Homo sapiens: one gene and its partners. The protein of the gene in region 1 purifies or fractionates together with the protein of each later gene. This does not show direct contact. Each region holds a gene or a part of one and is shown in the gene's direction. Other genes may lie near its edges. The genes, in order: ILDR2, GRAMD1B, PVALB, CLEC2D, SH3TC1, PCDHAC2 and ZNF70.

Evidence for each region.
Region 2: the proteins of ILDR2 (region 1) and GRAMD1B purify together in Homo sapiens (co-immunoprecipitation; one large-scale study listed by IntAct). This does not show direct contact.
Region 3: the proteins of ILDR2 (region 1) and PVALB purify together in Homo sapiens (affinity purification with mass spectrometry, with the first as the bait; one study listed by BioGRID). This does not show direct contact.
Region 4: the proteins of ILDR2 (region 1) and CLEC2D purify together in Homo sapiens (co-immunoprecipitation; one large-scale study listed by IntAct). This does not show direct contact.
Region 5: the proteins of ILDR2 (region 1) and SH3TC1 purify together in Homo sapiens (affinity purification with mass spectrometry, with the first as the bait; one study listed by BioGRID). This does not show direct contact.
Region 6: the proteins of ILDR2 (region 1) and PCDHAC2 purify together in Homo sapiens (co-immunoprecipitation; one large-scale study listed by IntAct). This does not show direct contact.
Region 7: the proteins of ILDR2 (region 1) and ZNF70 purify together in Homo sapiens (affinity purification with western blotting; one study listed by BioGRID). This does not show direct contact.

What each region holds. Positions count from the first base shown.
Region 1 is NC_000001.11:166,920,041-166,923,540, reverse strand, and holds part of ILDR2 (immunoglobulin-like domain-containing receptor 2 isoform 1 precursor), read left to right. Parts: intron 1-348; coding exon of another isoform or gene 349-350; exon of another isoform or gene 351-440; intron 441-731; coding exon 732-948; intron 949-1,090; coding exon of another isoform or gene 1,091-1,169; exon of another isoform or gene 1,170-1,310; intron 1,311-2,161; coding exon 2,162-2,834; coding exon of another isoform or gene 2,835-2,873; exon of another isoform or gene 2,874-3,500. UniProt on the Homo sapiens protein: May be involved in ER stress pathways with effects on lipid homeostasis and insulin secretion. With ILDR1 and LSR, involved in the maintain of the epithelial barrier function through the recruitment of MARVELD2/tricellulin to tricellular tight junctions.
Region 2 is NC_000011.10:123,611,769-123,615,268, forward strand, and holds part of GRAMD1B (protein Aster-B), read left to right. Parts: intron 1-992; coding exon 993-1,096; intron 1,097-1,686; coding exon 1,687-1,890; intron 1,891-2,976; coding exon 2,977-3,067; intron 3,068-3,500. UniProt on the Homo sapiens protein: Cholesterol transporter that mediates non-vesicular transport of cholesterol from the plasma membrane (PM) to the endoplasmic reticulum (ER).
Region 3 is NC_000022.11:36,800,203-36,803,619, reverse strand, and holds the end of PVALB (parvalbumin alpha), read left to right. Parts: intron 1-2,701; coding exon 2,702-2,730; 3' UTR 2,731-2,917; downstream 2,918-3,417. UniProt on the Homo sapiens protein: In muscle, parvalbumin is thought to be involved in relaxation after contraction. It binds two calcium ions.
Region 4 is NC_000012.12:9,696,883-9,700,053, forward strand, and holds the end of CLEC2D (C-type lectin domain family 2 member D), read left to right. Parts: 3' UTR 1-2,671; downstream 2,672-3,171. UniProt on the Homo sapiens protein: Receptor for KLRB1 that protects target cells against natural killer cell-mediated lysis. Inhibits osteoclast formation. Inhibits bone resorption. Modulates the release of interferon-gamma. Binds high molecular weight sulfated glycosaminoglycans.
Region 5 is NC_000004.12:8,223,290-8,226,789, forward strand, and holds part of SH3TC1 (SH3 domain and tetratricopeptide repeat-containing protein 1), read left to right. Parts: intron 1-1,885; coding exon 1,886-1,927; intron 1,928-3,500.
Region 6 is NC_000005.10:141,004,476-141,007,975, forward strand, and holds part of PCDHAC2 (protocadherin alpha-C2 isoform 1 precursor), read left to right. Parts: intron 1-3,500. UniProt on the Homo sapiens protein: Potential calcium-dependent cell-adhesion protein. May be involved in the establishment and maintenance of specific neuronal connections in the brain.
Region 7 is NC_000022.11:23,748,313-23,752,354, reverse strand, and holds the start of ZNF70 (zinc finger protein 70), read left to right. Parts: upstream 1-1,242; 5' UTR 1,243-1,644; intron 1,645-4,042.

The sequences.
Region 1 (3,500 bases):
ACATACCCCTGGAAAACTTTTTTGGGAGAGGGGAAGAGGTCTGCCCAAGTGCTGGAAGTAGGCTTGGTGCTACTTGAGCAGGATCTTCCAGGTTCCTAAATGAGCATGGGCTAAGTCAGGGGGTATATGGATACTAGGTACAGGTTTCCCCTTGACTATTCAACTATTCTGTGGACTTCCTGCTCTGTGGGGAGGGGCACAGCCAAAGGAGGCCAGAATGCAGTGCCTCTACAGCATATGGCAGTACTGGCTCTGAAGGTCCATCTTAGGACTGGGCCAGCAGTAAGGAAGATGCTGTGATCTATGGCTTCTGTCTCTCTTTTTCTGTTTTTGGCTTAACATGTCTAGGATCAACACAGCTCATCACAGAATTATAAAGGAAGAAGAAAACATTTGAACAAGGATGATGATGTACTAGGAGGAGGCCAGCAACAGAGATCCTGAGTTCTGGAAAGCCTGCCTTAGGTGCAACAATAACAAACTTGTTCTCCTATTCCAAGAACAGAGCATGTAGGAACCTCCCTCTCTGTAAGCAAGTAGGCTTCAAACTGGAGCCAATGCCTGCTGAGCTAAGAATACAAACACCACTAGTTCAGGCTTACAACCCACCCTGGACAGCAATGAGGCAGGAGTTTCCTGGAGCCTAGGGTCTCAGCCCTTAACAGGATTCTCTTCCTGTCTAAAACAGAGTAACACAAAAAGCTCTATCATGCCTGATTTTGTCCCTGCAGATAACAACACCATCTCAGAACTCAGCTCCCTACATGAGGAGGACAGCAATTTCCGCCAGTCTTTCCATCAGATGAGAAGCAAGCAGTTCCCTGTGTCTGGGGACTTGGAGAGCAATCCTGACTATTGGTCAGGTGTCATGGGAGGCAGCAGTGGGGCAAGCCGCGGGCCCTCAGCCATGGAGTATAACAAAGAGGATCGAGAGAGCTTCAGGCACAGGTGATGGCTGTGAGGGGCAGGTCTGGTCGGTGTGAGGGGGCAGGAGCTGGAAGGCAGGGTAGATCGGAGGCAAGGAAGATGCCATCCAGTAGCATCTCTGTCTCCCATTCCAGGTTATCCTGACACATCTCTCTTTCTACAGGATATTGAACATCTCACATTTGTCAAGACAGGGAACACTTGTGACAACATGTGTAGAAGTAATTATTCAAGACCTTTGAAATGGGTCCCCTAGACCCTTTAATGAACATTAATATATCTCTGCCCTTCTCATATATTTTATCCTATAACCTCTACAAAATCCCACCCATCATCTCCATCTTTTTTTTGTTTTTTTCGGTAGAGACAGGGTTTTGCCACGTTGACAGACTGGTCTTGAACTCCTGAGCTCAAGCGATCCACCCACCTTGGCCTCCCAAAGTGCTGGGATTACAGGCATGAGCCATCATGCCTGGCCATCTCCCTCATTTTTGATCATTTAGTATATGAAAGGTAAAATGCCAAACACTTCTCTTACATTTAATTCTCATAACTCTAAAGGGCAGCTACTATTAATGCCCCTATTTTAAGCTGGGAAAATGGAAACTTCTAGGTGCTAAGGCACTTACCCAGGTGATGTGGCCTCCCACAACAATTGTGGGAGGCTAAGATTTGCTATTCCCCCTAAATAGCACCTTCACCACTCATCTGTCCTTTACCTTAAAAGACAGTGAACATTGCCTTTCCCTTACAAATTGCAAGTGTCCTTCTCCCCTCCTGCCCCAGTAGGTAACTTGGCCCTTGGCTCTGAGGGAAGAAAAGGCCTCTCTGTGTGTCACCACACATTACAGGGACTCCTGGGACCATAACTGTGTGTACTGACACCTGCGCTGGCTTTGAGGGTGGAGACGTGTGGCTGTCAACCCGAGGTCACAACATAATGACCAGAAGGCAGCCCCACGGTGGGTCAGTATTCCATAGGATACAGAATATGTTCTATCCACACAACCCCATTTTGATGCGTGGCACACGAGTGGAATAGACTCGGTTGCCCCTACTTGACGTTCTGGGGTGTGAGAGGAGCCTGGAATGCTTCATCCAGCCTGGAGCGGAGCTGAGGCTCAGGCCGAGGTCTCCTGAGCGTGGCCCCAGGACACGATGGGTGCTCTTGGGAGCCCTACCTGGAGCTCCAGGGAGGGACCGGCCGTCTGACCCCCTCCTTCTCTGCCCGCAGCCAGCCGCGCTCCAAGTCGGAGATGCTGTCGCGGAAGAACTTCGCCACGGGGGTGCCGGCCGTTTCCATGGACGAGCTGGCGGCCTTCGCTGACTCCTACGGCCAGCGGCCCCGCCGGGCAGACGGCAACAGTCACGAGGCGCGGGGCGGGAGCCGCTTCGAGCGCTCGGAGTCGCGGGCGCACAGCGGCTTCTACCAGGACGACTCCTTGGAGGAGTACTACGGTCAGCGCAGCCGCAGCCGCGAGCCCCTGACCGATGCTGACCGCGGCTGGGCCTTCAGCCCCGCGCGCCGCAGACCCGCCGAGGACGCGCACCTGCCGCGGCTGGTGAGCCGCACGCCAGGCACCGCACCCAAATACGACCACTCGTACCTGGGCAGCGCGCGGGAGCGCCAGGCGCGGCCCGAGGGCGCCAGCCGCGGTGGCAGCCTGGAGACGCCATCCAAGCGGAGCGCGCAGCTCGGCCCGCGCAGCGCCTCCTACTACGCTTGGTCGCCGCCCGGCACCTACAAGGCCGGCTCGTCGCAGGACGACCAGGAGGACGCGTCCGACGACGCGCTGCCGCCCTACAGCGAGCTGGAGCTGACCCGCGGCCCGTCCTACCGCGGCCGCGACCTGCCCTACCACAGCAACTCGGAGAAGAAGAGGAAAAAGGAGCCCGCCAAGAAAACCGTGAGACTGCGTCTGCCTCCCCTCCTCCGAGGGGACTGAGCGGGAGCCTCCAGGCAGGGCGAGCAGTGTCGCTGTCTGGGGGCCGGGGAGGTGGCGAGGCGGGAGGGTCCTTGCCGGAGAGGCCGCAGGGGCCTGCCTGGGCGAGTTCGTCCGCGGATGCTAGGCCGGGGGCTTTTTCAGCCTCACTCTGTCCAAGGCCAGATGAAGGAAGGAAGCAAGGGCTGGGAGAGTTGAAAAACAGGCAGAAAGTTGAAGGCGTGTATATGGTTTTACAGGGAGCATTAGGTATTTAACCAACTCAGAAGCCTTTAGCATCAGGGATCTCGGGAGCCATCACCACCACCGGCCTTTAGTGGGCTTCTGAGGTCTGTGTGCAGAATCTTCGATGCATCCTTCTATGTGCATTCCTCCCCAGCCCTGCTTGGGGCGAGGGTTTGTAACTTGCATCCGATTTCCAAGAACCCACATCCCAGAGAAGGCTAAGAGCCACTGCTGTTTGCAAAGGACAACTCATGTCTGTCCTCTTTTGATGTTTTATTGAGTGTAAACTGCATTGTGCCCGTATATGTGAAGGAAATCCTTTGGTCCCTATCCAGTTCATTGTCTCTTTTGTAAGTGGTCTTATATAGACTTCATTATTTTCAAAATGCCAAGAGCTGCCTACTC
Region 2 (3,500 bases), on another chromosome or scaffold:
AGTACAGGCATTCTCCCATCTGGACATGGGTGGAGGTGGCATCCCTGAGGAGGGGGATGAGGCTGGGCTGGCAGCCTTAGTCACAGGGCGGGATGGGGCGGGATGGATTAGCTGGGAGAATCTATTGACAGATGCAGATGAACCTAAGGGGGAGGCAAAGAGCAGGGCTGCTGCATAGGAGAGAAAAGAGCTGATACTGCAGGGGGTATGGACAGAAGTGTGACCAGTGACTGGGAGCAAGAATGCTTGGAAAAGAGCAAGAGCTGGTGAGGTCTGGGGTGCAGTGGAGAGGCAGGAGCCAGGGCTGGCAGCAGATGATATTCTTTTTTTTTTTCTGAGACAGGATCTCACTCTCTTCCCCAGGCTGGAGTGCAGTGGTGTGATCATGGCTCACTGCAGCCTCAACCTCCACCTCAACCTCCCATTAGCTGGGACTACAGACATGACCCTGGCTAATTATTTTTGTTTTTGTAGAGATGGGGGTCTCACTCTGTTGCCCAGGATGACATACTTTTAAAGGTTAAAGTGATAAAAACCCAGAACTTGACTTAGACTTAAAAGTCTCTGGAGAAGGAGAGAATGACCCTGATGAAAGGATGAGCCGTCTTACTTTCTTTCAGTGTCAGTTTCTCAAAAGACTTGAACCTCAGGCAGAGCTTCCCCTTGCCTGGCAGGCAGGCTGCTGGGCCCTATGTGAGACCCCTGAGAGGAGGCAGTGTGCCATCATAAGAGAACTCTGGAGTCAGAACCCTAGTTGTTAGCCTTTGCTCTGCTTAAATATCCTACGGCTCAGTTTTCTTATCTATAAAATGGGGATAAATCCACCAGCTCCACTGACTTCAGAGGGTGAGATGGATGTGGAAGGACCTTTTAACTTGTAAAGTTTAGTACAAATGTGAAGCGGATCTGGCCTTAACTCCGAATTTCCCTTTTCCCAGCAGAGGCAGGCCCACCCAGGAAATGACTGATCTTGTGTCTGGCTTGCTCCTCAGGGTCTCCACAGAGCTGCGCTATCGAAAACAGCCCTGGGGGTTAGTGAAAACGTTCATCGAGAAGAACTTCTGGAGTGGGCTGGAGGACTACTTCCGCCATTTAGGTGAGCACTGCAATCCTTGCTGCTAGCTGGGCTGCAGAGATGGTAAACTGCACTGCGGCCGCCCACCATTCAGGGGAATGGTATTGAGAATAGAGGCAGAGACTGAAAGGTGAAGTAGTTTCATGAGGTACCCACACCTGCTTCAGAAGTGGACACCAAATTTGGCATGTATGTGGACAAGTGCATTTTTCTAGACTGTGTCTAGGATGTTTAAGAGATCATTGAGGGATCTATAAAACACCCCTCACCCCAAAAGGAACCACAGACCTAGTGATATAGGTGGCTCTGTGACGAGAAGTATTTGTAAAATGCCTGTGAATGCATCTATTTAAGACGTGTATGCCCCAAATTGTATACATGAGGGTGCAGATATTGGGAACATATGGTTCCTTGCAATGTTGAACAACCCCAGAGGAAGGGTTTGACTGGGGCTGGGTCCCACAAGTACCTCCTGAGGCTCATGGGCATCCCTGAGGATCCTCAACCCACCCAACCAACTTCCCAGAATACAGAATAGGAAAATGGTTCTGCAGAGAGTTGCATTGGAGGGCTGAAGGTGGCCTCTCCTGTGGTCCTTTTGTCTCTGATAGAGAGCGAGCTGGCCAAAACGGAGAGCACTTATTTGGCTGAGATGCACAGACAATCTCCCAAAGAGAAGGCCAGCAAGACTACAACGGTGCGGAGGAGGAAGCGTCCCCATGCCCACCTGCGAGTCCCTCACCTGGAAGAGGTGATGAGCCCGGTCACCACGCCCACAGATGAGGATGTGGGCCACAGGATCAAACATGTGGCAGGTGTGTGCCAGGTGGGGACAGGTCGGGTGGACTAAGCTTTGGGCTGGAGCTGCATGCCCACACCAAGGCACACACATGCACACTCATTTTGCACCTTGGCTATAATTTGTATATAATTTGAACGTAAGTCACTAAATCTGAGGCTCCCAATGCTCTGTTTCTCTTTGCTCTTTAAGTTCCTCAGCCCCAGCTGAACCCATATGTGTGCTCTAATTAACAAAAGCTGCCTTAGTGTTTATGCTTTCGTGTTGCCCTAGTTCCATGGCTACCTGCATAGGCTCAAGTATGAAGCTTCCAAGTTCTTGGGAAATACACTAAGGAGATCCCACAGCTCAGACCACAGAGATTACCTCATTACACAAAGATCAGGGAGACCAAGACAGTCCCCGTTCACTTCAACCCGCATGGGCCAACCCAGGCTTGCCCTCTCAGGCCGTGGACTCCCTTAATATTTCTTCCTCTTCCCACCCAGCCATTCACATCCTTGTCTTTGCTGAATCCTGGAAACCTGGGACTCTAAGGGGCCTTAGAGACCAACTAATTGAGTTGGATATGGACAGGGGAGGCAGAAGAAGAGGGGAGAGTGGGGGAAGAGTGCCAGCCTTCTGCATGCCGCCTAGCTTTACCCCTAGCACTTCCATGTTACGTGTTTTGCATTTAAGATTTCTGACTGACATTGCATTTGAGTAAACTGACTCTCAGAGAGCTTACATGACTTGTCCTCCATCATGTAGCTTACTAGGAATAGATCCAGACCCAGAAGCCAGCCGTCTTTAGTCCTAGCCCAATGCCACATCCTCTCCCATAGCTGAAGATCCCTTTGTCCTGGGCCTGTGTATCCTAGCTACATGGGCCTGTTGATTTTCTCATTTGTTCAATGATGACCTGACCCAACCCATGACCTTGCCCTTGAGGATTTTACCTTCTCCTCTTGGAGAGCTGGCAGTCTCCGCATATCGTTGCTGTCACAGTGTCATGGACATTTTTCCATCAGTCTCTGATGTTTGCTGTTTGACCAGTGTCCCCACCAGCAGTTGTTGGACTTGTGGGTCACCATGGTGATGGTCTCTTTAATTCTCCCCACAGGTTCCACACAGACGCGGCATATCCCGGAGGACACCCCCAACGGTTTCCACCTGCAGAGCGTGTCCAAGCTGCTGCTGGTTATCAGCTGTGTGTAAGGGATTCTAGGTTTTCCTATCCTGCCCTCACCACCTTCCCTTTCCAGCCTGGTGCCCCAGCCCTCGTCTCTTGAAGCATCTGAGCACCCTTACTGTTTGCCCTGGTTTTTGCCTTATCCTCTAGTCTTCTCTGTCTGGATTGGTTGCTCTGCCTGTTGCTTACCTCTTCGCTTCTTTTTCTCTGCTTTGTTCAGCATTTACTGTATGCTAGGCCTTCAGAAGAAAATGCTTCATGCAGCATCCATACCCTTCAGGGTTTCAGTTTCAAGTGGGTGAGAGAGACAGAACATTTGAAATTCCTGCACAGATGGTTAAATGCTAACAGAGAAATGCTAGAGGGCATTTTAGGAGTTCATTCCTTCATTAGATGTTCTGGGTGTCTGCTCTGTGCCAGGCACTGGAACTGTGCACTCATGGAGCCCACACGTT
Region 3 (3,417 bases), on another chromosome or scaffold:
CATCCATTCCTCATCCCTCCATCCACCCATTCCTCATCCATCCATCCATCCATCTACCCCCCATCCATCCATCCCTCTATCCCTCCCTCCATCTGTCCATCCATCCCTCCATCCATCCACCCAGAGCTTATTTATGAGCACCTACTGTGTGCCAGGAACACTGTGGCTGCCAGGAGAACAGTGAACAAGAGAGAGGCTCCCCTGCCCTCTAGAGTTTGCATTCTAGTAGGGGGAGACTGACAAAAATAAGTGCATAAATAAGATCATTTCAGAGAGTGCCAAGGACTATGAAGTAAATAAAAAAGGACTAATGCGATGGGATGGTGATATTTGAGCTGGGACATGTGTCACTCTATACCAAGGTCAAAGTAGGTCGGAAACTACAGGGATGAAGAAGGAAGCCTAAGAGCATTTCTAGCTTGAATCATGTCATGGTCAAGCTACTTAATTTTTGAGCCTCAGTTTCCCCATCTGTAAAATGCAGACAAAGGTGTCTCTCCCATGGAGTAGTCATGAGGATTCAATGAGATAATATATGCAAAATGCTTCCCACATTGGCATTCGATAAATGTTAGTTACTAGCTATAATTAATAAAAGTACTGCTAATAAAAGACATCTCAAAATAACCACCTGCCCCACCGAGGTCCTGGAAGATCACAGGCTCCTGGCTGAGAAAGCAAGCACTTTGACGCCTGCCCTATGGGAGGGATTCTGTACGAGTATTTGTTGTTTTGGTATTTATTTGAGACTCCATCCTTGGCACTGCTGTTACCACTCAGCCAGAGAGCCTGGAGATTTCAAAACCAGCTGGTGGACCCTCACTCTCTCCCACCCTGCATCCCCCATATCCAGGTCACCCACTTTTCCTATCCTAGGACAGCCTGGGGACAGGAAAGGATGATGTCTATTTCCTAAGTCAAACCTCAGGAAGGTGAGGCACCCAGGTACGTGTCCCTTCATCTAGCCAGGGCCAGTGCCAGGTTGTTTCTTTCTTTTTTTTTTTTTTTTTTTTTTTGTGTGAGATGGAGTCTCACTCTGTTACCAGGCTGGAGTGCAGTGGCACGATCTCGGCTCACTGCAACCTCTGCCTCCTGTGTTCAAGCAATCCTCCTGCCTCTGCTTCCCAAGTAGCTGGGACTACAGGTGTGCGCCACCACGTCCAGCTAATTTTTGTATTTTTAGTAGAGACAGGGTTTCACCGTGTTGGCCAGGATAGTCTCGATCTCTTGACCTCGTGATCCGCCCACCTCAGCCTCCCAAAGTGCTGGGATTACAGGAGCGAGCCACCGTGCCCAGCCCAGTGCCAGGTTATTTCTACAATACAGCATGTGTTGGTTTGGCTTTTGTGTGTGTGTGTTTTCACTTTTTTATTTTGAAATAATTGTAGATATACAGAAGAATTGAAATGATAGTACAGAGAGTCCTGTACACCCTTCACCCAGCTCCCCCGATGTTAATATTTTACATAACCACAGTACAATGATGAAAACTAAGAAACTGGATAGGTGGGGTTTTACATTTGTATTCCACACAAAGTCCAGGGAGGACGCAGCTCACCTCAAATGAGTCTCAGATACTTTTTGTGGCCTTTTTGAAGCCATTTCACGACCAGTTTTTTATTTGTCTCACCCAAGCAATTATTACTGGCCCCTCTCTTCACTCCACTGACAGATGAGGGAACCAAAACCCAGAGAGATACATTTTCCAGCAAATAGGGCCAGACTAAGCCTGGAAGCCCTAACTTTCAATCCCCAGCCTGTGCTCTCCCCACATCACAACACTCCATTTTCTTTTTTCTTTTCTTTTTTTTGTTTGTTTTGAGACAGAGTCTGACTCTATTGCCCAAGCTGGAGTGCGGTGGCACGATCTTGGCTCACTGCAACCTCTGCCTTCTGGGATCAAGCAATTCTCCTGCCTCAGACTTTGGAGTAGCTGGGATTACAGGCGTCCGCCACCACACCCAGCTAATTTTTGCATTTTCAGTAGATACAGGGTTTTACCATGTTGGCCAGGCTGGTCTCAAACTCCTGACCTCAAGTGATTCACCTGCCTCAGCCTCCCAAAGTGCTGGGATTACACGCGTGAGCCACTGTGCCCAGCCAAGACAACACTGCATTTTCTAGGGCGATGGGCACTTGCCTGAGACCCTACACTCCCCAGCAGGCTGAGACATGGCATCTCAGAGACACGTAGTGGCACGTGGCAGCAAACTCCTTGTCCTCTCTCATCTCCTGGGGAGAAAAACAGCAGAGAAGTCCAGAAATCAGGACCCTGAGCCTCAGTTTCTTCATCTGTAGAACAGGAACAATGCCAAAATGCACCAGACAGGACTATTGTCAGAGTCAAATAAGATATTGCATATAAAGTGTTTCGAATAGTGCCTGGCATATGATAAGCATTCAGAAAACTATTATTATTATTATTGCTATTGTTATTAGTGTAGTTATTATTAATGATTTTGGGTGTGGCATGGCATGATGAACCAAAAGATGTGGTAGGCCCATCATTTCCCACCTCACTTCACTCATCTGCTCATTCATTCATTTATTCATTCATTCATTTTCACACTTACGCTCTGGGGCTGCTGCAGCAGAAGCAAGAACCCAGAGAGAGCACCACCCAGGGCCCCGCAGTCAGGTGTGGACAGTCTCTCTTGCATCCCCGCCTCTGACTCACTTTCCTTGTCATTTTGTTCTGCAGAATTCTCCACTCTGGTGGCTGAAAGCTAAGAAGCACTGACTGCCCCTGGTCTTCCACCTCTCTGCCCTGAACACCCAATCTCGGCCCCTCTCGCCACCCTCCTGCATTTCTGTTCAGTTCGTTTATGTTATTTTTTACTCCCCCATCCCCTGTGGCCCTCTAATGACACCATTCTTCTGGAAAATGCTGGAGAAGCAATAAAGGTTGTACCAGTCAGACTCTGCTTGCTCAGGAAGACCCAGGCCTGGTCAGGCATTGGCTTTCCAGATGCATCTGGGCAGGGGGTGGGGGCTGGATTTCAACAGTTAGAAAAGTTGTGATAGGAGGGAATGGAAGGGAACAGTCTCTTTTCTGTTCTAAGTACTAAGCATGGAACTCTACAGAGGTTACCCACTTACTCCCTAAAACCACCCCATAAGGTAGGTGATGAAACTCCCATTCTCTGAAAAACTGAGTCTCAGAGAGGGGATGTGATGTGTCTAAGCCCACAAATACAGGATTTGCTAGTGTTGGGATTTGAATGCAGGTCCGTGGATGGGTAGGTGGATGGATGGATGGATGGATGGATGGATGGATGGATGGATGGATGGGTGGGTGGATGAATGGGTGGGTGGATGGGTGGGTGGATAGATGGATAGATGGATGGGTGAGTAGATGGGTGGGCAGATGGGTAAATGGATGGATGGGTGGGTGAATGGACGATGGATGAATGGGTG
Region 4 (3,171 bases), on another chromosome or scaffold:
CACCACCTCATAAAGATATCTGCTTTCCTGTTTATTATAACACATCTTTATTCATAATAGCCAAGATACGGAACTAACTGAAGTGACCATTAACAGATGAATGGATAAAGAAATTGTCATATATATAAAACACACACATTATATACATACATACATATATATATATATATAAAAAATAGAATATTATTCAGCCTTGTAAAAAGAAATCCTGTTATGTTGGGAACAAGCCCCCCAAAATCTGGCCATAAACTCACCCCAAAACTGGCCATAAACAAAATCTCTGCAGCACTGTGACATGTTAGTGATGGCCATAACACCCACGCTGGAAGGTTGTGGGTTTATGGGAATGAGGGCAAGGAACACCTGGCCTGCCCAGGGTGGAAAACCACTTAAAGGCGTTCTTAAGCTACAAACAATAGCATGAGCGATCTGTGCCTTAAGGACATGTTCCTGCTGCAGTTAACTAGCCCAATCTATTCCTTTAATTCGGCCCATCCCTTCATTTCCCATAAGGGATACTTTTAGTTAATTTAATATCTATAGAAACAATGCTAATGACTGGCTTGCTGTTAATAAATACATGGGTAAATCTCTGTTCTGGGCTCTCAGCTCTGAAGGCTGTGAGACCCCTGATTTCCCACTTCACACCTCTATATTTCTGTGTGTGTGTCTTTAGTTCCTCTGGCGCTGCTGGGTTAGGATCTACCCGACTGAGCTGGTCTCAGCACTGTTATTTGAAACAATGTAAATAAACCTATAGGGTTTATTATATATACTAAGTGAAATAAGCCAGACACAGAAAAAAAATGTTGCATGATCTCACTTATAGTGAAACTTAAAAAAAAAACCCAAATACATAGAAATAGAGTAGAATGGTGGTTACCAGAGATGAGGAAAATACAGAGACACAGGTCAAAAGATACAGAGTTGCAGTTACAAAGGGTGAGTATGTCTAGATATCTAACATACAGTATGAGGACTATAATAGTATTGCACTGTGTACTGAAAACTTGATGACAGATTTTAGATATTCTTACCACACAGACAAAAAGAAATGTAAGTATGTGAGATGAAGCTTATGTTAATTAGATTAAGTGTATGTACATAAAAACATCACATTATACACATCAAATATATACAATAAAAAAGCACATTGGGAGATACATGATAAATTTCTATCTGCAGTTGCTATTTGCATTTTTAAAGGATATTTTTATTTTTTAAATTTTTAGCTGACAACTGTATAATTATGGAATACAATGTGATGTTCTGATATATGTGTACACTATGGAATGATTAAATCAAACTAACATTTCATCATCTCACATACTTATCATTTTCTGTGGTGAGAACATTTGAAATTTATTCTCTTGACAATTTTGAAAGATCCAATACACTATTATTAACTATAGTCACTATGCTGTGCAATAGATCTCAAAAGCTTATTCCTCTTAACTGAAACCTACTACCCTGTGACATGTGGGGAACATCTCTCTATTCCCCAGCCCCAGTCCCTAAATGTTGAATACACAATGGGGAAAAAATAGTCTTCAATGAATGGTGGTGGGAAAATTGTATATCCACATGCAGAAGAATAAAATTGGACCCTTACCTCCTACCATATATAAAAACCAACTGAAAATCGATTAAAGACTTAAACTGTAAAACTACTAAAAGAAAATATAGGGAGAAAGCTTCACAACGTTGGTCTGGGCAATAATTTTTGGATTTGACCTCAAAAGTAGATGCAACCACAGTGAAAATAAACAAATGAAATTGCATAAAATAAAAAATGTTTCTGCACAGCAAAGGAAATAATTAATGGAGTAAAGAGACAACTTACAGATTGGGAGAATATATTTCCAAACTATTGTTGGGGCTCAGAAACGGATACCCTAACATATAGTGATTTGACAGGTGGAACTAAAGAAGACTCGAGGTCTCTCTGACCTCCTCCTCAACCTCTGTTTCTTAATCCTCTGTTTTCCCAGAGCACAGGAGGAAGTTCTCTGAAGTTCCTTTATCTGCTTTAAGTTCAGACTCACCAAATAAGAAAACAGTTAATTCTGGTGCCTTCCATGGGTTTTCATTAACTGAAGTCATATTGTAGGAAAAAGAATGAAGTCTCTTAACCCACCTGGATAGATTTTTCTCACAAACCATTGTCTTCTCTGCAAGCCCAGTAGACTTTGTCCCAGGCCATTTATGTGATCTTCACCCCATTAAGTTCTCCCCAAATTATTTACTCTTCCCCCAAAATCACCCACACTTCCCCATCTCCCTCTCCCCTAAGGACAAGGGTATATCACCATCTATACCCCATTGCTTGGTGGGGTGATCACTCTGATTCTCTGCATGCATTTTTATAGATTTGTTTGCCATTTATCCTATTAATCTGCATTCTGTCAATTGTGGCAAGTTATCAGCATATTTTTTAACTTTTAATTATTCTTAATGGAAAGACACTTCTGTATACACTGGAAATCTCAGGAAATTTCTTTTTTCCTTAAGCTTAATTGAAATGTTTACTTTTCAGTAAAATTTCAAGCTTGAGTAATGTTCATGCCTGCTTTTCATTGAAATAGAATGAAAAGGTTGCACAATATTATTTTCATGAAATTACTTCTAGTATAATTCTGAATAAACACTTTGAAAGGCAGTGAACTGTAAATATATTACAGCTATCTCTTATTCTTCAGGGTGGGTCTCAATTATGTAAAAGATGATTGGCTTTCTGTTTTAAGTAATAGTCATTTTGAAAACACTTTAAAACTGTCAAGTGAAGTGTGATGGCTAATTTTATATGTCAACTTGACTGAGATAAGGTATACTCAGCAGGGAAAGCATTATCTCTGGATGTGTCTATGAGGGCTTTTCTGAAAGAGATTGATGTTGGAATCACTAAGCTGTGTAAAGATGATCTACCTTCACCAATGTTGGCAGGCATCATCCAATCCGTGCAGGTCTTACCCAAACAGAGCAAAAAGTCAGGTAGGGTAAATTTATTCTCTTCTAAAGCTAGGGCATCCATTTCTTTCTACTCTCAGACATTGGAGTTCCCCAGTTTCCCAGACCTTTGGCCTTACACTGAGAATTATGCTTTGTTTTATTTAGGCATATTTTAATAATACTTCATGTATTGGTCAGGAAGACATTTCCTGGTTCTAAGGC
Region 5 (3,500 bases), on another chromosome or scaffold:
GCCCTGAGGGCTCCTGTTTGGGGCCCAGCCCTCTGCCCACTGCACTTTGCCTGGGTGAGAGTGACTTTTCTCCTTGTCACAAGAGAAAGAACCCAGACTGTGGTGTGGCCTGGTCACCTGGCTGCCAGGGAGTGTCATGGTGGGACCCCAGGGCTGCCGTCTCCTAAGGACAGAGATAGTCCCTCTGACCTCAGTGCCCCTCTGTGTGCAAAAGCTTTCTCTGGGGGCTGCAGTGCAACGCATAGATGAAGTTGGCATGTCATCCACAACATAAAGAAACATGGCAGAGGCCGTGCTATCTGCTGGGTGTAGATAAACACAAATGTGTGGCTACACACCCACTTTTTTTTTTTTTTTTTTTGAGACAGAGTCCTGTGCTGTTGCCCAGGCTGGAGTGCAGTGGCATGATCTCGGCTCACTGCAACCTCTGCCTCCCGGGTTCAAGCGATTCTCGTGTCTCAGCCTCCCAAGTAGCTGGAACTACAGGCACGCGCCACCACACCCTGGATTAGTTTTGCATTTTTTTATACAGACAGAGTTTCGCCATGTTGGCCAGGCTGTTCTCGAACTCCTGAGCTCAGGTGATCCGCCAGCCTCAGCCTCCCAAAGTGCTGGGATTACAGCTGTGAGCCACTGTGCCCAGCATCTACACACCTACTTGTATACCTATGTGCACATGTACAAACACAGACATAAACACACAAATACGCATGTAAATACACACTGTGTGCATGCACACATGCACTCACAAGTATACACACACACACACCCACCCATGCAGACATGTGTGCACATGTGCCTGCAGAGGTGTATACACACATACACACATGTGCATGCACCTTCCTCACAAGGTGTACACGCACACGTACATACATATCCATGCACCCCCTCACACACATATGCACACACATATATAAACAGATACATTTCCACACACACTTTTTTCCTGCTTGCTCGATGACATGCATTACAAGACCTTTTCTCCCACCAGTATTAGAGTTAACATTTGTAGATCCCACAAATCAACTTCCCTTCCTGAATGGACAAACTTAGACTTGACCTCAGCATATCAAGGCTCAGACCCCCTGGATGGTATCTCCTGTCCTTTTTAGGAAGCAGGTTTGGGACCCTCCACACCGTGGGGTGTTGTGGGCAGGGGCATTGCAGGGTGCAGGTGTCATAAGTGGGGGTGTTGCAGGATGCAGGTGTTGTGAGATGGAGGCATTGCAGGGTGCTCCCCAGAACTGCACACCTGTTATCGCAGTTCACAGCGCTTGACGCTGTCCACATCTCCACATCTTTTTACAGCTATTTCTCACTTGACCTCCACGGAAACCCAGTAAGCAGTTAGTGTCAGCCACTTTACGGGGGTGAAACTGAGACCCGGTAGCTGCCTGCCCTGGGATGAAGAGGGTGGGGGTGCACTGGAGCAGTGTTGATCCCTGGGCTGTCGGACTCAGAGCTGCTGCCTGTTCAATGCGCCCTGCTCCCTGATGGAGCTGATGGAAGCCGAGAGCGTGCTCCCCACTGATGATGGGAGGATGTCCCCAGAAGACGGGAGAGTGGAATCCCCACAGGGGTTGGGTGGGGTGGAGGCCTGGAGATGCTAGAACATGAGAATTCTCTGGCCCATTGGCTGGTGCCTCTCCCTCAGGTGTCAGCAGTGCTCCTATGCTGGTTGCACCTGACCCTGCAACACCTCAGCCTGCAACACCTGCACCCTGCAACACTCCAGCCCGCAACACCAGCACCCTGCAACATCTCAGCCCTCAATACCTGCACCCAGCAATGCTCTCACCCTGCAACATCGACACTAGCTCAACCTGGCAGGGGACCAGAGGTACTGGCTGGGGGTGTTGATTGCTTCTCTTTTCTCCCTTGCCAGACTCAGTAGAGGAAGCTGAGACCGAGCAGCCGCAGGAAAAAGGTGGGTTTTGCCAGTGGCTCAGGCTTCCTCTGGTTATGAGCTGGGCCTTGGGGTAACGCTGGGGGAGGTGACAAAGCTGAGCACGGTGGGCATTGGGTGCGGCTGTCACCCCTCTGTGGTGTGGGCTGGGGGCTTGGGGGAGGTTGCCTGAGGTGGGCCTGAACCTCCCGTCCACTGTGGCACTGGAGGCCGTGGGGTCCCGCACTTCTTCCAATGAACATGCTGGCCCCCGCCTGGTCCCCGCCCAAGATGGAGCATCCTTTCCACTGCTTGGGTCCACTTGTAGCTGTGGGTTCCTTTCTCATGACCTGGAGAAGCTGCAGCTTGCCCTCTGCTCTGCCTCAGAGATGGGAGGCCACACTGCCCTCAGTGGGTGGCAGAATTCAGAGCCTTAGGTTGCAGGGGCCTCAACTGAGGTCCCTCAAGGGTCTGCTCCTTCCTGAGGGGCTGATTGAGGGAGACCCTTCCATCTCCCCTCTACAGCTCTGTCTCTTCCCCTCACACAGGGTCCGCATGGGGAGAGCCTGGGGATGTGGACACCCCAAGAGCCCTCGGAAGTTCCCTGGGAATGGGATCCATTCCAGTACATTTGGGATGCAGGCAGGAGGTCCCAGAGGAGGCCTGGAAGCCAGTGGGGAAGGGAAGGCTGTTGTAGGTTTTCCTGGGGGAGGGGGTGGATCCACCCTCTGCCGAAGTCCCTGGAGCAAATGCGAGTGACTCCAGCTGCCCCCAAGGCCAGGGTAATAGCTGGGAGGGGCTGTTTGCCTCTGCCGGGCAGGGAGATTTCTTAGCTAATCTAGTGTAGTCAAGTCACATTTGCCTCTAAATCATATGTAATTTTTTTTTAATTCCAAGGCTTTACAGATGAATAAGGAGACAGTTTGTAGTGAAAATATTTTTTACATGTGAGCTTGAAACAGAGAGTCTATTTAAATCTAGATTCTTTCCTTCCCAGTAATGTCTCCTTTCGTCCCAGGTTTTCCAACAGGAAATGCGCTTGTTTGCTCACCTCTGGGAGGGGGCTTTGGCTGGGAATCCACCAAAGCCAGCAGGCGCCAGCAGGCTGCGTGGGCAGCCTGGCCTTTGTTAACCCTTTAGGAACTGCGGGCTTCAGGTTTTCAGACCATCCAAGGTGAAGGTGGTCACAGGAGCCTGGAAGCTTTCCCATCCTTCCTGCAGGGATGGTCCATTTCCCTGCATGGAGCTGGGTACATGGCTACAACATCCCTGTCCTCTGCTGTGGGTAGCTTTACCAATTTTGCATAGCAGCTTTTGAGCTGATCAGTAGCTCTGACTGGCTGTTGAGGATTTCATGGATTCCTGTACCCCATCGAGGGGCCCAGTATGCTGACAAAAATTACATTTGTAGTCGTAGTGCTGCGTACACTTGGGTGCAGTTAGAAGGCTTTGATTCTTTCTAAAGGGAAAGGCATCTCTGAGGGATCACTGAGCTGACACATAGTCTCCTAAAACCATGCTGTCAGGTGGGCAACAAAGGAGGACAGGAGGGTGATTTCATAGGAGAGTTGGGCCATGGGCCTGTGTTTTCCCTGTCCCCACAGTGCCGGAGTTC
Region 6 (3,500 bases), on another chromosome or scaffold:
TGGATTAACTCTTGGCAGTCCTGCTGTGAGGGGCTCCCTCTGCCAATACACACAGCCATTAATGTCCTTTAACTGTGCAAGATGAACATATCTCTGTGTTCTGCATCTCCAGATGACAGTGCTTAGGCCTCATGCAGAGTCCTGGTTATGGTTGAAGAAAAATTTCCATTTTGGGCTCTGAGGGCAACTAAAGGACTGTGGAGTGGTGCTGAAACCCAGTTTTAGGTGCCGAATCAGAGGTTTTTAAATACATTTCTCTCTTTTGTCTCAGTCTCTTAGAGACAGGACCTGTATTTTAAAGGTAAACAGGCAGATTCTGGCTGAGCTCAATTGCAGATTTGATTAACTTAGATAGATCAAAGTCATTAGTCTCAGAGAAAAAATTTGTTTCTCATCCCTAAAGTGCTATTGTGTCAGCTCTGCCAGGGTGTAAGGAAAAGGGTTTGGAAGAGAGAAGAAAATTTCTTACCCTCTCTCGTCACTGCCTGCTGTAAATTTGCAGTATCATTATCTTGGTCTCCTAAGCCCTGAGAGCTGCATTATATATAATTGCCCATATGTGATACCATTTACTGAATTCTTGCATTGTGCTAAGGATCAAGCTTAGTACTTTACATGCATTACATCATTGTCTTTAGGGACCCCAAAAGTGCCTCATTGGAGAGTTGTTTGGTCTGCTAAAGAGTGGGTACCACTTTCACTTCTCACATCAGTCCTTTCATTCATTCATCCAGCAAGTATTTACTAAACACCTGTTATGGGCCAGGAATTGTGCTAGGCACTGGTGATACATTGGTGAATAAACAGATACATTTTTTGCCTTTGTGAATCTTACAGTGGTAGAGAATAATAGGCCAAGGGGGTGCTGCTTGGCTAGGAATGTCATAGAATGCCTTTCCAAGGAGGTTACATTTAATACAGACTTGAAGAGTGAGGAGTCATGCTAAGAATGGATGAGAGGCTCACGCCTGTAATCCCAGCACTTTGGGAGGCCGAGACGGGCGGATCATGAGGTCAGGAGATCGAGACCATCCTGGCTAACACGGTGAAACCCCGTCTCTACTAAAAATACAAAAATTAGCCGGGCATGGTGGCGCGTGCCTGTAGTCCCAGCTACACAGGAGGCTGAGGCAGGAGAATGGCGTGAACCCGGGAGGCGGAGCTTGCAGTGAGTCGAGATCGCGCCACTGCACTCCAGCCTGGGCGACAGAGCGAAACTCCGTCTCAAAAAAAAAAAAAAAAAAAAAAAAAAAAAAGAATGGATGAGAAATCATTCAAGACAAAAGCAAACCAGATGTGTAAAGATCCTGAGGCAAAAACAACTCCAAGGAGCCAGGTATGGTGGCCTGTAGTCCCAGCCACTTGGGAGGCTGAGACAGGAGGGTCGATTGAGTCCAGGAGTTTGAGGTTACATCAAGCAATGATTGCACCACTGCACTTCAGCCTGGTTGACAGAGTGAGAACCTATCTCTAACAAACAACAATAAAAAAACAATTCCAAAGAGTGTTTGAGGATCTGAAAGAAGGCCTGTATGGTTGGAGTATAATAGTAAGAGGGAGATTTGTAGATGAGAGTGGAGAAGAAATAAAAATCAGATTATTGAAGGGACTTATGTATCATGGTAAGGAGTTTTTTTTTTTTTTCTCAAGGCAGTAGAAAGCTTAAGCAGAGGAGTGATATAATCTGATTTATATTTTTAAAAGAGTTTGCTATATGTATGTTATGCCTCATTTTTTTTTAAATTTTTTATTTTTAGATGGAGTCTTGCTCTGTTGCCCAGGCTGGACTGCAGTGGCACGATCTCAGCTCACTGCAAGCTCCACTTCCCGGGTTCATGCCATTCTCCTGCCTCAGCCTCCTGAGTAGCTGGGACTATAGGCGCCCACCACCACGCCCGGCTAAGTTTTTTCTATTTTTTAGTAGAGACGCGGTTTCACTGTGTTAGCCAGGATGGTCTCAATCTCCTGACCTCGAGATCTGCCTGTCTCGGCCTCCCAAAGTGCTGGGATTACATGTGTGAGCCACCGCGCCTGGCTGTTATACATCAGTTTTTAAAGAGAGACATTAAGAAATAAAGATGACTCTGGCTACTGTGTGGAGGGTTGGAGAGAAGCAAAAGTGGAAGCAGACTGAATAAGGAGACTATTGCTGCAATTCATATAAGAGATGATGGTGTCCTGAAAGAGTGGTGGCAGTGAAAATTGGGAGAAGAGGACAGAGTCAAGATATATTTAGGAGGCAGAAATGACAGGTCTTGATGATGTATTATAAATGGAGAATGAAGAATAGAATAGAGAAAAATGAATAATTAGCTTTGAACTTTCTGGCTTGAGAAATGGGGTAAATGGGGTGTAATTTACTGAAACTGGAAAGATTTAGAAAGGAATAGATTCGAGGAATCAAGAGTTTGATTTCAGATTTCTTCAGTTTGGGATGCCCATGAGATTTCCAACTGGGGATACCAGATAGGCAGTTATACATGAGATTGGAGCACAGAGAGATGTGGGCTTAAAATATAAGTCTGCATCTCATCAGCTTATTCATATGGTATTTATATCTATGGATATGGCTGAGATCCCAAAAGGAGAGAGTGAAGAGAAAATAGAGAAGAGAGTCTAGGGCCAAACCCAAGGAAGCTTCAACACACAGATGAGGAGACTGACAAAGGAAACTGTCAAAGAACAGTCAGAGAGAAAGGTCAGGAGAATGTTTTGATGGTGGGGGCCAGAATATGCTGTCCCAAAATAAGAAGGATTGTTGAGCTGAAGGCAAGTTAAAAGAAGCAGATACAGGCTGGGTGCAGTGGGCTCATGCCTGTAATCTTAGCATTTTGGGAGGCTAAAGTGGACAGATTGCCTGAGCTCAGGAGTTCGAGACCAGCCTGGGCAACATGATGGAACACCATCTCTACTAAAATACAAAAAAAAAAAAAAAAAAAAAAATTAGCCAGGCATGGTGGCATGTGCCTGTAGTCCCAGCTACTCAGGAGGCTGAGGCACGAGAATTACTTGGACCTAGGAGGCAGAGACTGCAGTGAGCTGATATCTCGCCACTGCACTCCAGCTTGGGCAACAGAGCAAGGCTCTATCTCAAATTTAAAAAATAATAATCATGATAATAATAAAAGAAGCAGATATAGGAGAGGTCTTCTGCCCTCCCTGTATTTGCCTAAAAAACCATAAATTTACAAAGACAAAAGTTATCCTACTTCCACCTCCCTCCTCTGCCTCCCACCACCAGGGAGAACAAAGGTTAACCACTGAAGATAACTTTGGACTCTTATTGGCCTGGAAATGGTACTGCTTTACAAATTAGCCTTTATCTGCCATTCATTTGCCTTCCCCCAAGTAGCTACCCATTAGAGACTCAAAGTCCTTAAAGGTCTTTTCCTTTGTCTTACACTTCTTTAAAAATTTATTGTTCTTTGTTGAAGATGCTATATAAGCTGGAATTCTAAGCCACCTTTTTGAGAACTGCTCATTCTCTGGGTGTCTGTCAT
Region 7 (4,042 bases), on another chromosome or scaffold:
GACAGAGCATTAATGGGGCAGGAAGGCAGGTGTGTGTGGGTAGCATTGGAGGCACTCGAGCGCCAAGGCTGAGGGTGCTGAAGGCAGGTGGGCGGCTGGGGCAGAATCCTTTTTCCCAGGGACAGTGTGTTCTCCTGATGTCCTGTGATTGGGCCAAGGTCTGCGGAGGGAAGCTCTCCCACAAGCTGGGCAGCTGCACCTGAGGGGGGGGTGTCATGGGCAGAACACTGGGTGGAGGGGCCAGTCTTGCCATCAGCAGCAAGGAGGGGGCGGAGATTCCTTTTCTTTTTTTTTTTTTTGTTTTTTGAGATGGAGTCTCGCTCTGTCGCCCAGGCTGGAGTGCAATGGCACTATCTTGGCTCACTGCAACCTCCGCCTCTCAGGGTCAAACGATTCTCCTGTCTCAGTAGCTGGGATTACAGGCGCTTGTCACCACTCCCGGATAATTTTTAGTAGAAACAGGGTTTCACCATGTTGGTCTGGCTGAGTCTCGAACTCCTGACCTCGTGATCCACCCGCCTCCGCCTCCCAAAATGCTGGGATTAAAGGCGTGAGCCACCGCGCCCGGCCAAGGGGGCGGCCATTTCAAGAACACATTCCTCTTCCCTCCCGGTGCGCCTGAGAGGAGGCGCTTCATGTCGAAGTCAGCCCTGGGATGCAGAGAGTTGGGGGGCTCAGGGTCCTGGGATGGTCTCGCAGACACTCCTAGTTCTTCGCCTGCCCCTTCTCATCTCTATTTCTGTGGGGGCGGGGAGGGCAGACAGGAACAGGGCTACCCTTGAAGCAGGTTGGGGGAGGGGGATCCTAACAGGACCCCGGTGCCTGTGGACAGTGACAGGGTCGACAGCTCTGGGGCTCCACTCTCCTTTCCCTGAAGACCCCAGCTGCCTCAGTGGCTTCTGGCTTGCACCCAGCACCAGCGCAGATGCCCCGAGTGCCGGCGGCTCGAGGTCGGCCCGCCCGTCCGGACCTGTTTCCTCCTCTGCTCTCCTGCCAACGCCTGCCCATCTCTGTTTCCCCCACGTCCAGCACGCGCTTCGGGGACGGCCAGAGCCACCATGCCGACTGGAGAGACTCTCCTGATTCGGGTCCTTGTGTCCCGGGGCCCGGGCGGCTTCGCGCGGCGACAACCGGCGCGGTGGGACCACCGAGACGCCGGGACCTCCGCGCGGCCTAGAGTGGTCCCGGAAGTGCCCGCGGGCCGGGGGCGGGGCTCTGGGTGCTCGGGCGGCCGCGGGCTCCGCGTCAGCAGCTGCTGTGGAGCCAGGCAGCGTCGGCCGCGTCGGCCGCGGGTTGGAGCAGCTCAGGTGCGGCCCCGCCCCGCCCGCCTGCGGCCCCGCCCCGGCCCAGGTGAGCTGCCCCGCCCCGGCCCAGGTGAGTGGCCCCGCGTCCGCCGGTGTGACCTGAGTCCGCCTGACCACCTGTCCCTCCGGTGGCCCTGGGTGTGCGTGTCCCCAATCGCGGGGAAGCCTGTAGGGGCGCCACGTCGCCGCCTGGGCAGCGTGTGCGGGTCCGTGGCAACTCTTGGGCCCCCAGCCAGGAAACCTTGACTGCACTAAGAGTTTGCAGGGTGCCCAGGCCCTAGGGACTCTCTGGAGGATGGGATGACAGATGCAGGAGGACCCGGAGAAGGCCCCGACAGAGGTGGGAAGCATGGAGTTCCAGATCTTTGCATTTTCGGTCCAAAAACACTTATCATGTTGTGGGAGACAGATAAAGGGTTGCCAACTTTTTTCTGAGTGGAGACTTCAGGGTGTAGGGGCTATATAGTGGGAATGGAAAACCTCTACGGAGGGAAGTTTGAGAACACCAGGACTTAATGGGTGGGCGGAGGAAGAGTTGCAATCTAAAGATATCAAGAAAGAGAACTTGGAAGCCATGAAAATTGGGAAGAAAGCGAGGGTGGGGATGGGGTTGGGGGGTAGCTCAAAGCTTTCATGCACCTAGGTAGGCAATGTGGGCGGGTGAAGGGATATTGTCACATCTTCGTTTTTCAAGAGAAAGCCAGAAACCTACTGAGTTTTAAATATTGGTAACTAAGGAAAATGAACAGGAAAAGCCAAACTCTTCGAGAGCCAAACATAACATAGCAGGATCTTCAGGCTGCCAATTTGCAACCTCTGAAATGAAGGGTTTTGAGAAGGAGGTATTGGAGAGCAGTGCCAGATGGGGTGGGAAGGTGAAGACCGAGAAGAGAGGGATTGGCAATAAGGAGGTCATAGAATGCCAGAGCTGAGGTCCCAGCTGAAATCGGAAACTCGAAATTTGTCGTGGTGCCATACATAGTTGTATGATTTTTCTTGGCAACATTTAACAACTTAGGAGGAACTGGCCGAGAAGACTGGGACTTAGCGGCTAGTTGCAGCCGGACGAGGAGGTGAGGAGCATGGTGCTAGAGCGTGAGAGTTGAAGTGATGCGCATAGTATGGAGAGTCTAAGCTGGATGGAGAAGGGGTGGAGCTAGAAAAGGAGAACTACAGTAAAAATGGCTTGGATTTCATGAGGTCGAAAAGCACAAATTGAGTGAGAGAGCTGGAAGAGTTGGAGATTATGGGTTGCTGAAGAGGAGGGGGAGGGTGAGAGGAGTTGAAGTGATCAAAGAATTTTTGAAAATACTTTAGGGCTGGGCGAGGGGGCTCACGCCTATAATACCAGCACTTTCGGAGGCCAAAATGGGTGGATCGCATGAGCTCAGAAATTCGAGACCAGTCTGCACAACATGGCGAAAACCCATCTCTACAAAAAATACAAAAATTAGCCAGGTGTGGCACGTGCCTGTAGAGCCTGTATTCCCAGCTACTTTTTTTTTTTTTTTTTTTTTTTTTTTGAGACGGAGTCTCGTCCTGTCGCCCAGCCTGGAGTGCAGTGGCGCGATCTCGGCTCACTGCAAGCTCCGCCTCCTGGGTTCACGCCATTCTCCTGCCTCAGCCTCCCAAGTAGCTGGGACTACAGGCACCTGCCACCACGGCCGGCTTTTTTTTTTTTTTTTTTTTTTTTTTTTTTTTTGAGATGGAGTCTCGCTCTGTTACCCAGGCTAGAGTGCAGTGGCGCGATCTCGGCTCACTGCAACCTCCGCCCCCCAGGTTCAAGCGATTCTCCTGCCTCAGCCTCCCGGAGTAGCTGGGATTACAGACGCGCTGTAATTTTTGTAATTTTAGTAGAGACGGGGTTTCACCATCTTGGCCAGGCTGGTCTTGAACTCCTGACCTCATGATCCACCCACCTCGGCCTCCCAAAGTGCTGGGATTAGAGGCGTGAGCCACCGCGTCCGGCCTTTTTTGTATTTTTAATAGAGACAGGGTTTCACCGTGTTAGCCAGGATGGTGTCCTAGCTACTTAAGAGGCTGAGATAGGAGAATCACTTGAACCCAGGAGCCAGAGGTTCCAGTGAGCTGTAATCACACTACTGCACTCCATTCTGGAAAAAGAAAATACTTTAGTTCAGTGCTCTTTTTTTTTTATATCCAGTCGGTCTATTGGCTGAAAAATCATTTAAAAAAATCATTTCTGGGCTGGGCGTGGTGGCTCACACCTGTAATCCCAGCACTTTGGGATGCCAAGGTGGGCGGATCACCTGAGGTCAGGAGTTCGAGACCAGCCTGGCCAACATAGTGAAACCCCATCTCTACTAAAAATACAAAAATTATCCGGGCCTGGTGGCGGGTGCCTGTAATCCCAGCTATTCAGGAGGGTGAGGCAGGAGAATTGCTTGAACCCAGGAGGCAGAGGTTGCAGTGAGCCGAGATTGGGCCATTGCACTCCTGGCTGGGCAACAAGAGTGAGACTCCACCTCAAAAAAAAAAAAAAATCATTTCTGCTGGGCATGGTGGCTCATGCCTGTAATCCAGCACTTTGGGAGGCAGAGGTGGGAGGACTGCTTGAGCCCAGGAGTTCAAGACCAGCCTGGGCAACATAATATTATCTCATCTCTACAGAAAAATTAAAAAATTAGCTGGATGTGTTGATATGCCCCTGTAGTCCCAGCTACTTGAGAGGCTGAGGTTGGAGGATCAGTTGAGCCGGGGAGGTCAAGGCTGCAGTG